2 separate regions of the Homo sapiens genome follow, and region 1 is linked to region 2. A link means that fine-mapping ties the variant in region 2 to the expression of a gene that starts in the linked region. Tissue or cell type: vagina. Region 2 holds a variant in brackets; the other region holds the start of a gene. All regions are shown on one strand. Distances are between the middles of the regions.

Region 1 (5,152 bases), 440 kb after region 2:
TGGAATCTTAAAAATGTTTCTTAAAATCTCAAATTGGGTCCAGAAAATGTCCCCCAGTATTTTTTTTTTCTCCTTCCATTCTGAGTATGTTCTAACTCTTCATAACTCCACAGAAACAACCTTCACCTTTTGGAAAATGAGGGTGTTAAATATGTATGTCTAATTGCCGCTTTAATTTTCTTTCCTCATTCTGTTCTCCACCGTATTCCTTATACTCTGCCCTTACCAATGTATAGTATACCATCTTGTTTTCTGACATCCCATTGAATTCCAGGCTCAAGCAACAGACAGTCTACCTCTTGCTGACATTTATATGCTATGGTACTCTTTGTAACTTACCTAAACTCTCTTGGCTGTGATTTGTTCATTTGGAAAATAAGTTATGTTTAGATTATCTCCAAGAAACTTTTCATCTCATATTTTTATAATTTCCACACTGTCTAAACAATTTTAAAAGTTATAGGCAACATTAAATCCTGAAACTGGAAGAATCAATGTCATGTTTCCTTTAGATGCAAGCAAATGCTCATGTCCAGACAACATGTGGATTTCTCATGACCAACATGCCTTCCCGGGTCACTTATGTGTCTGAGTATTTTTCCTCCTCCACAATCATTTATCCTTAAGGAATGAGTTTATAGCCAAGGTATTAATTTTAAATACTGGGAAAAAAACAATTGTAGTTAAATGTCATTTATGAAACTATATAAATTGAGACAGAAATGGCTTTCAGATTGTTTATACTGTTCCTTATGCCATCAGCATGAATGTTGAGATCTGACCTGGCTCTATCCTTGATCCAAAATATCATGTGCAATCAACATAATTGTCCTCTGGTACAATATGTTCCTCTTGCATTGTGTTTACAAATCTGTTCTGCTCATGCTTGTCATCTGTGTTATAGGTCTTTATTAGCATTTTCAGATTTCAGTTATGTAATTTCCTTTACAATTTCTCTTAACTGTTGGTACACCACTTCCTTCTAACACGTCAGTTCATTTTCATTCTCTTACAGAATATTTTAAAATTTTAAAATAAATGTACATTTGATGTCCCTTTAAGAACAGGAGCACTGGAATAAGATTTGCAAAAGTTTTCAGACCCCTTGATTAAAAAGTGCCTTACAATTTACTCAGTCTCTTTGAATAAAACTTTGTGAAATACAAATATTTTACTTTTCTAGTTTTTCTCCAGAATTTTTGTTTCCTGTAAGTTTATTGGGGCACTCTCAAGTTCTCCAATAGATGTACAAAAAAAAAAAAAACAGCTTTATAATCAAAGCTGTTTATTGTGTATGCCAATATTGTCCCTGATACTTCACAAGTAGATTGGTCTATTTTAAGTGAGTAGCCGGAAACAGGAAAGCATTGAGGAAAGGCTGATAGAGATGTTTCTACTACAATTCTAACATTGTATACTTTATTATGATTACTATTATTATTATTTTAAAGTACTGTCTCATTGGGGAAAAAGCCGGAGAAAACATATGGTCAAAAGCATCTAGCACTTCTGTGATGATGCTCCTTGAACTTGTATTCTGATATGTTTAAACGAAAAACACTGCCACATTTGATTGTCATTGGACTCCAGCTTTCTGGGAGAAGTTGTTTGTCAACAGTACCTTACTTAACCTACTTTAATTTTCCAAGTTTTGTCTGCAATTTCAATCATTTAATAATTACTGCAGCAGCACTGTCTTTGAATACATAAAGGAATTTTGATTACATTAATGCTGCCAAATGACTACAATAAAAGGATTTCTCCAGCAGTCTTGCCTTTCTTTCGGTTTTACAGCTATTGGGCTGTCAGAAGGAAACGTATCAGTCCAAACTGTCTTTTGGAGCTTCAAGGTAGCTGCTCTCGAGGAGGCAGCGGAGGCGGCACCCAGGGCCCCCTGGCCGGGCTGCCTTCAGGTTGTTGCTTGTTGAGAGCACGTTCCCAGTTGACAGATTGATTCCCCTGTCTTACCTCTCAGTTGTTGCTGGTCAGCCACATCGCACTGGATGAACAGAGTCTTCTGAGGTTCAAACTGCTCATCCAGGGCAGCTTTACACTGTACACCTGCTTCAAGATTCCAATCCACCAGCGCTACCTATAGACAAGAGGAGAGGAATCGCGGGCCTGCGCAGCTCACGAAATAGACGGACAAACAATAAACACACAAGAGGCTCCCCTCCTGGACCTGAAATTTGGCAATTAGGTTTGGGTTCCCTCCCAGCCACTTCTGAGGTGTGCTCACAGCCTCAGCTTCAGCAAATTTTGGAAGTGGCAAAGTGGGCACGCCGGGCGCGGCCTCCCTGTCTCCGCCAGTGCACCTCGGGCGGCGGGGCGAGTCTCGGAGTGTGTGGGCAGAGAAATTTCCGCGGCTGGGCGCCGGGCTTACCTTGGCGCCCTTAAGCAGCAGCGCCTCTGCAAAGGCTCTGCCTATGCCCTGAGCCGCGCCGGTCACCAGCGCCACTTTGCCGTTCACGTGCATGGTGCAGCCACTGCTGGGGCGGGCGGTGGGCGAGCTCCGCGTCTCCGCGCGGCCGCGGCTTTTATGCCCCCCTGCGCGCGCGCGCGTGCAGCCCGGCGGGGCGCTCCCCTGCCAGTGGGCGGGGAGGAAACTGTCAAGCCAGCGCCCGCCGGGGAACCCACGACTGTGTCACCTGCCCCCTGAGCGTTCTGGAGCGCCAAGCTTCGCGATCTTTGCCTTCCGGACTCGCAGACCGGCTCAAAGCCTCCCCTCAGCCTCTGGCTCCGTGATTGGCAGGCAGCTGACAGAAGAAAAGTTAAAAGGTTATTTCTGAAGAAGAGTTTCCTTCAGTGCCCTAAAGACCAACTGGATAGAAGGAGAGCGGAGCAGAGGCTTGGAAGCTTGGATCCCTCCTCCTGCACTCCCTCCCGGCCCCGACTCCGGAACAAAACAAGCAAACAATAAAGCAAACTTGTTGCTCTTTTGTCTCAAAGTTTTGTGTGAGTTCCCATCTCGTAATCAGTGGGGTTGAGGGTGACGGGGAGCAGAAGTAACTAATATCATTGTGTTTTCTTAGTTACATTTTGGACAAATTTTTACGGATACTGGAGATGAGAAGTGGACTCTGCTCTGTCCTGAAAACCTGGAATCATAACATTTCATGGCTAGGACTAGAGTGTCCTTGGCGCTGTGTTTCTGGTCAGTGTCAATTGTGTGTCATATTGAGATGCCCCCACAAAAACTGTCATCATCAACAGGCGCTCCAGAGCCGCTGGTAGCCTACCAAATTGTTGGCTCAATGGAATGCTTACTTGTTGAAATACACCAACTTTGGAAGCTCTGAGTCAAGTTTGGGACAGAGGTTCCTTGCTCTCCAGGAACTCCAGGGCTAGCTGTATGCGGACTTGCATAAATAACAAGGGCTATTCCACTGACTTTGTCTCTTTTTCTCAGGTTGTCAGCGGCAGGCTGCAATTTTAATTCTGTAAACGTAAGTGGTTGGCTTTTTTTTTTTTTTTTTTTTTTTAATCTTGAGACAAGATCTCGCTCTGTCTGTTTGGCTAGAATGCAGTGGCATAATCCCAGCTCGCTGCAACCTCAATCTCCAGGGCTCAAGCGACCCTCCCACCTTGGACTCCCAAAGAGTGCTAAGATTACAGGCATGAGCCACTATGCCCAGCTGGCATTTATTTTCTTAAAGAAAAAAAAAATCTAAATACTTGGGGGAAATGGGAGTTGAGCAAAAGACTGACACTAACAGCAGAATGAATCATTTTTATATCTTCTTTACCTTCTTTACTGGGAAAGGTGGCTGGCTCAGCAGGGAAGGAGTGTATGAGGAGACTGTGTAAAATGTGTCTTGTCGCGTTGTTGGTAAGCCGCTAAGCAAATGTCTTTAACATTAATTTGAAATTAGGTCTTGACAAAATCTTGAGAAATTAAAACAGGAAAATAGATATTTGTACTCTAGGATGATAATTAAAATTGTAATATGAAGAGTAAATTGAGGGGTCATATTGAAAGGGAATAATAGTAGAAGACAAAAAGAAAACAAGGAACCAAACAAAACTTCAGCTCCTCTAATGGCATGCACAGAACATAGAAGTTTCTGATGAAGGAACTGGCAAAAAAGACAGAAAAGGAACTGCTGGGGTAAAATGGCAACATGCTGGGAGAACACAGGTTTGCAGCTCTTGTGGGAGAAATACTTTCAAGAAGAAAGAAGTAGTTAATAATGCAAAATACTCAGGTGAGCACCAGGGAATAAAGGATGGAGAAATATTTTGAATTTTTCAGGACAATATTTAGTGTGAGTAAATTTAGAAGGCACAAAAACTGAACAGCTGAAATGATCTGTGAGAAGATAGATATTGTCATGGACTGAAGACCAAGGTTACATGGAAAGAGAAATGGACTGGATAATAGTTGAAAAGATTAGACAGCAAACATGTTTTTCTTTTAAGAAAAGATAAGAAGATTGATTGAGGTCAAAGTGCAATGAGTCAAGGATAGTGACAACTGGAAGAACAGGAAGCAGTTTGGCGGTGGCGGATAGGTGAGGCACAAGGACGTCAGCACTGGATTCAGACAAACCGGGTTTGGATCTTGTGTCTGCTACTGACCAGCTGTGTAACCTTGGGCAATTTGCTTCAACTCTGGGTCTCAGATTCCTTATTATAAAGTAAGCTTTTCTAAAAAAAAAAAAAAAGGTGAAAATTAAAATAGGTGAAGCATATTAAACACTATTACAGAGCCTGCCACAAAGTATTAATACATTAATATTAGTCCCAACATATTACTTCTGAAATATTAATGAATAATAAATGTGAGATAGAGAAAAATGTGAAGAATAGGTTTTTTTAGTAGATAGCAAGGACTGAGGTCTAGAGAAAACTTAGTACCCCTTCATCCCTTTCCCTCCTCTCAATTTCCACTGCCACTGTCCAGATTCATATTTTCTCCTATGATAGCAAACAGCAGTTAGCTTCTCATTACCTCCAAATACGCCCCCCACTTTTTTTCGCATTGTGAGATGCTTTTATTACAGTGAATTAAACTGCTTACCAAACAGTGATCTTTGTAAGGAAGGATTTTTTCCCTTTTTAGTTGACATGGAATAACTGTGCATATTTATGTGATCTATATATACAGAGTGATATATATGTACGGAGTGATATATCAATACATGTATACAAT
Region 2 (5,152 bases):
GAAGATTGGAACTGTGAAAGACAGCCTCAGCAACCTGTGGAATTCCAATGAACATTTGTGTTTGGTCATTGCCATGTATGTTCTATTATTAAGTAACTGTTGGGTAACATGTCTCAGGCCAAAATAAACAGTATTACCTGATAGATGTATGCACTAAACATTAATATATTATAATGAACAGAGCTACATTGCTGCCCAAATGATCATATACAGATCATACAACAGTGTAATCTGTTTATCACGATACCAAATATCTTACGTTCTGGCTTTTTCTATAGAGTATCATCAGTTAACATTCAGAATTAATGCGCCCCATCCAGCCAGCTGCCCAAGCCAGAGGGTTTTTTCCCAGTCAACCCATAAACACCTAGTGGAGAAGTCTTAGCTATTTAATATCTCCATCCATGTGTCTCCATCCCCATTGTTACCACTTAGGTCAACTCTTGAATTCACATTTCTCATTCAGGTTCCATTAAGCTCCTAAGCGAGCTCCACACACCCACTGATGCCTCTTTAATACATTCTCCACTCTGCATCCAGAGGCATCTTCTAATAGTATAAATATGTCATTGTTCTGCTGAAAACCGTTTGATGATCCACTATATTCTTCAAGGCTATTCATAATCTGGCAATACAGTGGAGCCATCAAGAACTTGGGCCCTAAAGCCAGACAGTCTAGGTACAAATCTTGGCTCTAACACCAGATGTGGTTCTGGGAATTCACTTTATGTCCCTGCTTCTCAATTTTTCCTTCTGTAAAATAATTAATGTAATATTAGTGTTGCATTAATATGGTTGGGATTAAAAGAGGTAATGCTTATAAAGCCCTTAGTCCAGTGTCTGGCACACACATAGTACACATTCCATAAAAATAATCTGTTATCATGTCTTGAGTTCTGTGTTCTCTACAGTTAAAACAAACTGCTGGCACTCTCTGAAGACATTATTCTGCCTCTGGATGCTATCTTTACATGTGCTGCTTCCTCAGGCAGGAAACCAGTCTTCTCCCATGGCCCCAACACCACTTTCTCTAGTTGATTCCCACATTTAACCTTTAAAAAATCATGGAGATTGAATGTCCTCCTAAAAGCCTTTCCTCACTTTCTGCCATCTAGGTTTAATTCATATACTCATGGAGTAGTCCATACATAACACTACTCTAGGGCCTTATAGATTATATTGCAATTGTCTGCCTAATGGCCTATAACCCCACGTGGGTTATAAGCTCTTTGGAGGTCAACAATATAACTATTTGTCTCTGTATCATTAGTTCATTTTTTGTTTTTTTGAGAAACAGTCTCACTTTGTCTAGGAGGCTGGAGTGTAGTGGTGATCTCAGCTCACTGCAACCTCTACTTCCTGGGTTCAAGCAATTCTCTGCCTCAGCCTCCCAAGTAGCTGGGCCTACAGGCATGCACAACCATGCCTGGCTGATTTTTGTATCTTTTATAGAGATGGGGTTTCAATGTGTTGGCAAGGCTGGTCTCCAACTCCTGGTTTCAAGTTATCCACCGGCCTCTGCCTCCCAAAGTGCTGGGATTACGGGCATGAGCCACCACGCCCAGCCTCATTAGCTCACTTTTGCACTGCTATAAAGAAATACCTGAAACTGGGTAATTTATGAAGAAAAGAGGTTTAATTGGCTCATGGTTCTGCAGGCTGTACAGGAAGCATGGCTGGGGAAGCCTCAGGAAACTTACAATCATGGAGGAAGGTGAAGGGGAAGCAGGCATCTCTTCATATAGGCAGTGCAGGAGCAACAAAGGTGGAGGGAGGTGCTACATACTTTTAAACAACCAGATCTTGAAATAACTCATTCACTATCACCAGAACAGCACCAAAGAGGAAACCTGCTCCCATGAGCCAATCACCTCCCATCAAGCCCCATCTCCCACATTGGGGTTTACAATTTAACATGAGATTTGACAGGGACACAGACCCAAACCATATCACACAGTGACTGAAGATAAGCAAAGGAGAAGTAGCAGGAATAAAGATTCTGTAGACTTAGATGAATCTGAGAAAAAGAAGACTGTCTAAGGGTCTCAATCATCAAGTGCATGGTCATATGC[G/A]AGTACTTAGAACTGTATCTTTTTCTCACCAGATAAAATCCAAACTAATTATATTCAAATGTAGAATATGAAACCATACTAGTACAAGAAGAAAACATGGGCTAACTCCTTTATGGCCTGAGAAAGGGGACAACATTCACAATTATGATTCAAAATCTAGAATCAGTAAGGGAAAAGATGGATAAATGTTAATATAAATACATATAGATAAATACACCCATATATACATTCATACCTGAAAGTTTTGCATGACAAAAATAAAAGCACAAGCAAAGTAAAAAACAAATCATAATACAATTTTGAAAATCTTACTTATACAATAGGCAAAGATTTATTATTCCTAAGGTGCTTATTTTAAAATATGATAAGTAAAGTGAAAGAATAGTGGGTTTTTCCTGCCTGGAGTGTTTTTAGATGAAATAATATGATGTTTGAAATTTGTTTTGTGAAAAAAAAAAGCCCTCCCTTTCGACAAAAGTAAGGGGATAGGTGAAATAAGTTTGACAAAATGATAGCATTGGAATTATGCAATTGATTCATAGATACTCATTCTGCTGTTCTGTCTACTTTTGTGTGCAAACTTGCCATAATAAAAAAGCTTTGGAAGTGCATTGGAAGAAAATTATGCAATCATCTGAAGGGTTAGGCTAGTTGAATTCCAACACTTACTTATCAGTTTCATAAAATATATTTCCTAGGAAAAGCCTTTATCAATATTATAATTTTCACTTGGGATTGAAATCACTACATGCTAAGCTCTATAAAAAGCTAAGAAATTTTATCTTGCATGTTTTGTTTCAGGAAGGGTCAGCAACATTCAAGGACGTGCTATCTGAATTAGGGATTGAGCTTCCTAAATCTCAGCTTAAGCTTGAATGTGTCAGAATGGTTCCCAGCTGTCATGATTGCACTCAATTAGGCTGAACTTCTGGCCATCATCTAAACCAAGACCTTGCTAGACACCTCACAGGCCCAGGCCCACACATTTGAGCTGCCTTGAAGCCAAGGCAGGTCCAGGATATTGATATATACCATATACACATGACTGTTACACAACTGTGGCAGATGCATCCTTACCATCTCACCATCTCCTACTGCTTCCCAGTAAAGTCTACTCTGCACTTCACTGCAAAATTATTTTTCAAGAAGGTCTTTATCGCTATATTCCCTTTTTGGAAAACGATACATCTTTAGCTGTAGATTAAAATTCACAGTGTGGTATTCACTGCTCTCAATCCGGGCAAATTGAGAAGATTCTGGTCTCACCTTTGTGGCTATAAGCCTCCCTCAAATGTTTGCTCCCTAGTCTATGTTATTCTCACTGGCAACCTGTACTTAAAGCGCATCCTCTTCTGAACAGGTGCTTTTCTGCTTATTATACGATGCTCGACATTTGTAAAAGTAAATGTCTTATGTCCCCATCCAGATTTTTGAGATTTCTTCTCAGTATTTCCTGAATCCAGCATTAGGATAAGGAGTGGGCACTCAATAACAGCGATTGATTCTTAGAGTCGAAGCTGTAGAATTTTGTGGTGAGGAATATGATTCTTGCAGGACAAGTCAATGAAGGTACCATCACAAGCTACTATATGGTTCTTTAAGTGGCACAAAATGTGTGAGAGCATTTAGTGTGTCAAAGGAACAAGATTATCAATCATTGAACACATATAACAATTTCTACTTGTCCACTCATCACTATAATTTTCAAGTGTTCATTTCATCTCATATACTATTTCCAGACTTCAGAGTTATTCCTTTAGATTCCCCTTTCAACTGACTCATATCCATCCTTTATTCCAGTTTTCCCATTATTCTCACCCCATAGTTAAGTGCCTCATCACTTCCTTCCTGAACTGGAATGCTTACTATTAAAGGAAATCTCTTCTTCCTCTATGTCAGTGATTTCAACATTCAGCAAGAAGCCACCATTCCCCATGACAATCATCCTGCCATAAACCACGGTTAACTGATCAGAGTGTAACAACTCCTCAAGTTCAGGGAAAAAATCATTTTGAGAATTACTGCTCCAATCAACTTCCTACAAAATTTGTCCTAAAATTATCATCCTAAAATAGCCCTGTGATCAAACTACTCCCTACTAATACACCTTCAATGGAATATTGTTCTCATAGAATAAATTGCTAACTCCTTACAATTTCACATTACCTGACATATCTACCTGTAACCTTTGCAAATTTCAAGGTAGCTCATCCCTTATCTACACAGAACATTTCAAACTTACCTCCCTCGGGGCCTTTTCTCAGCTGACTCCTTATCCAAAAAGCTGTGCATTGCCTGCGCCACATCTTAGAGTATCATGCTTTTACTTATTTTTATAATTGTATTCTTTCTACCTCCACCTTGACACTAAACTTCTTAGACAGTAGAAACTACATCTTAAAATTATTTTTCTCCCTCAGCATTCTTAACACAGTGTTGTAATGTGTAGTCAACAAATTAGATTTATTTTTACAGTACACATTTATCAAGCTATAATTTTCACAATGTTTTAATTCTGTTCTGAGGTCTACAGATATCTCTACATAAACACTAAAGCCAGTGATTTAATAAGTGAAAGGAATGCATACATTGCTTTGCAAAAAAATTAGCCTGATACATTTATATCTATATATTTATAGAATCATTTTCCCAAGGCTCATGAAACTAAAGCGCACACATACACCATAGACACACACACACATGCACACACACACCATTATAGTCAATTCAAATGGATTTATATTGTGTCAAATTAAATGCCATATGAAATTTATAATCAGATACACAAAATATGAATGGAATCATGAATACACTGTTGATAATGGATACCATAGCTCACAAATATGATCTCCAGTTAAGAAGAGAGAAATAATTGTTTCATTGGATTTTTGGTATGCGCTAATCACCATCACAAAAAAATCAATTTAATTACACAGTATTCAGAAATTTAACAAACATGCAGATATTAAGTTGACCACAATAAAACCTTTAAATCTGCAAAAAGACATGAAAATATATGGTCAATAATACCATTGTTCACTTGAGTCAGCTTAACATTTTACTTTATTCAGATGCCAAAG

Direction of the effects. Positions count from the first base shown, and alleles are read on the strand shown. Sizes are in standard deviations (SD) of each study's normalised expression.
For the expression in vagina of the gene that starts at base 2,513 in region 1, allele A in region 2 goes with a higher level than allele G (large effect, 0.86 SD a copy in GTEx).

Evidence for each region. PIP is the estimated chance that this variant, and not a neighbour inherited with it, causes the effect.
Region 1: it holds the start of HPGD, and the variant in region 2 is fine-mapped to the expression of HPGD in vagina (GTEx, PIP above 0.99).

Annotation. Positions count from the first base shown.
Region 1 is chr4:174,519,976-174,525,127 of GRCh38, forward strand. It overlaps HPGD (15-hydroxyprostaglandin dehydrogenase), which reads right to left and starts at 2,513. Exons shown (of 7, transcript NM_000860.6): 1 at 2,384-2,513; 2 at 1,969-2,092. The coding sequence starts at 2,476. LOC105377548 (a long non-coding RNA gene) reads left to right here and starts at 2,638. Exons shown (of 7, transcript XR_007058492.1): 1 at 2,638-3,154; 2 at 3,410-3,446.
Region 2 is chr4:174,080,833-174,085,984 of GRCh38, forward strand. The region is part of intron 1 of LOC107986204 (a long non-coding RNA gene); the gene reads right to left. Among named protein-coding and RNA genes, the nearest start is that of LINC02268, 140 kb to the right of the region's middle. The variant G/A (reference allele first, on the strand shown) is at 2,073.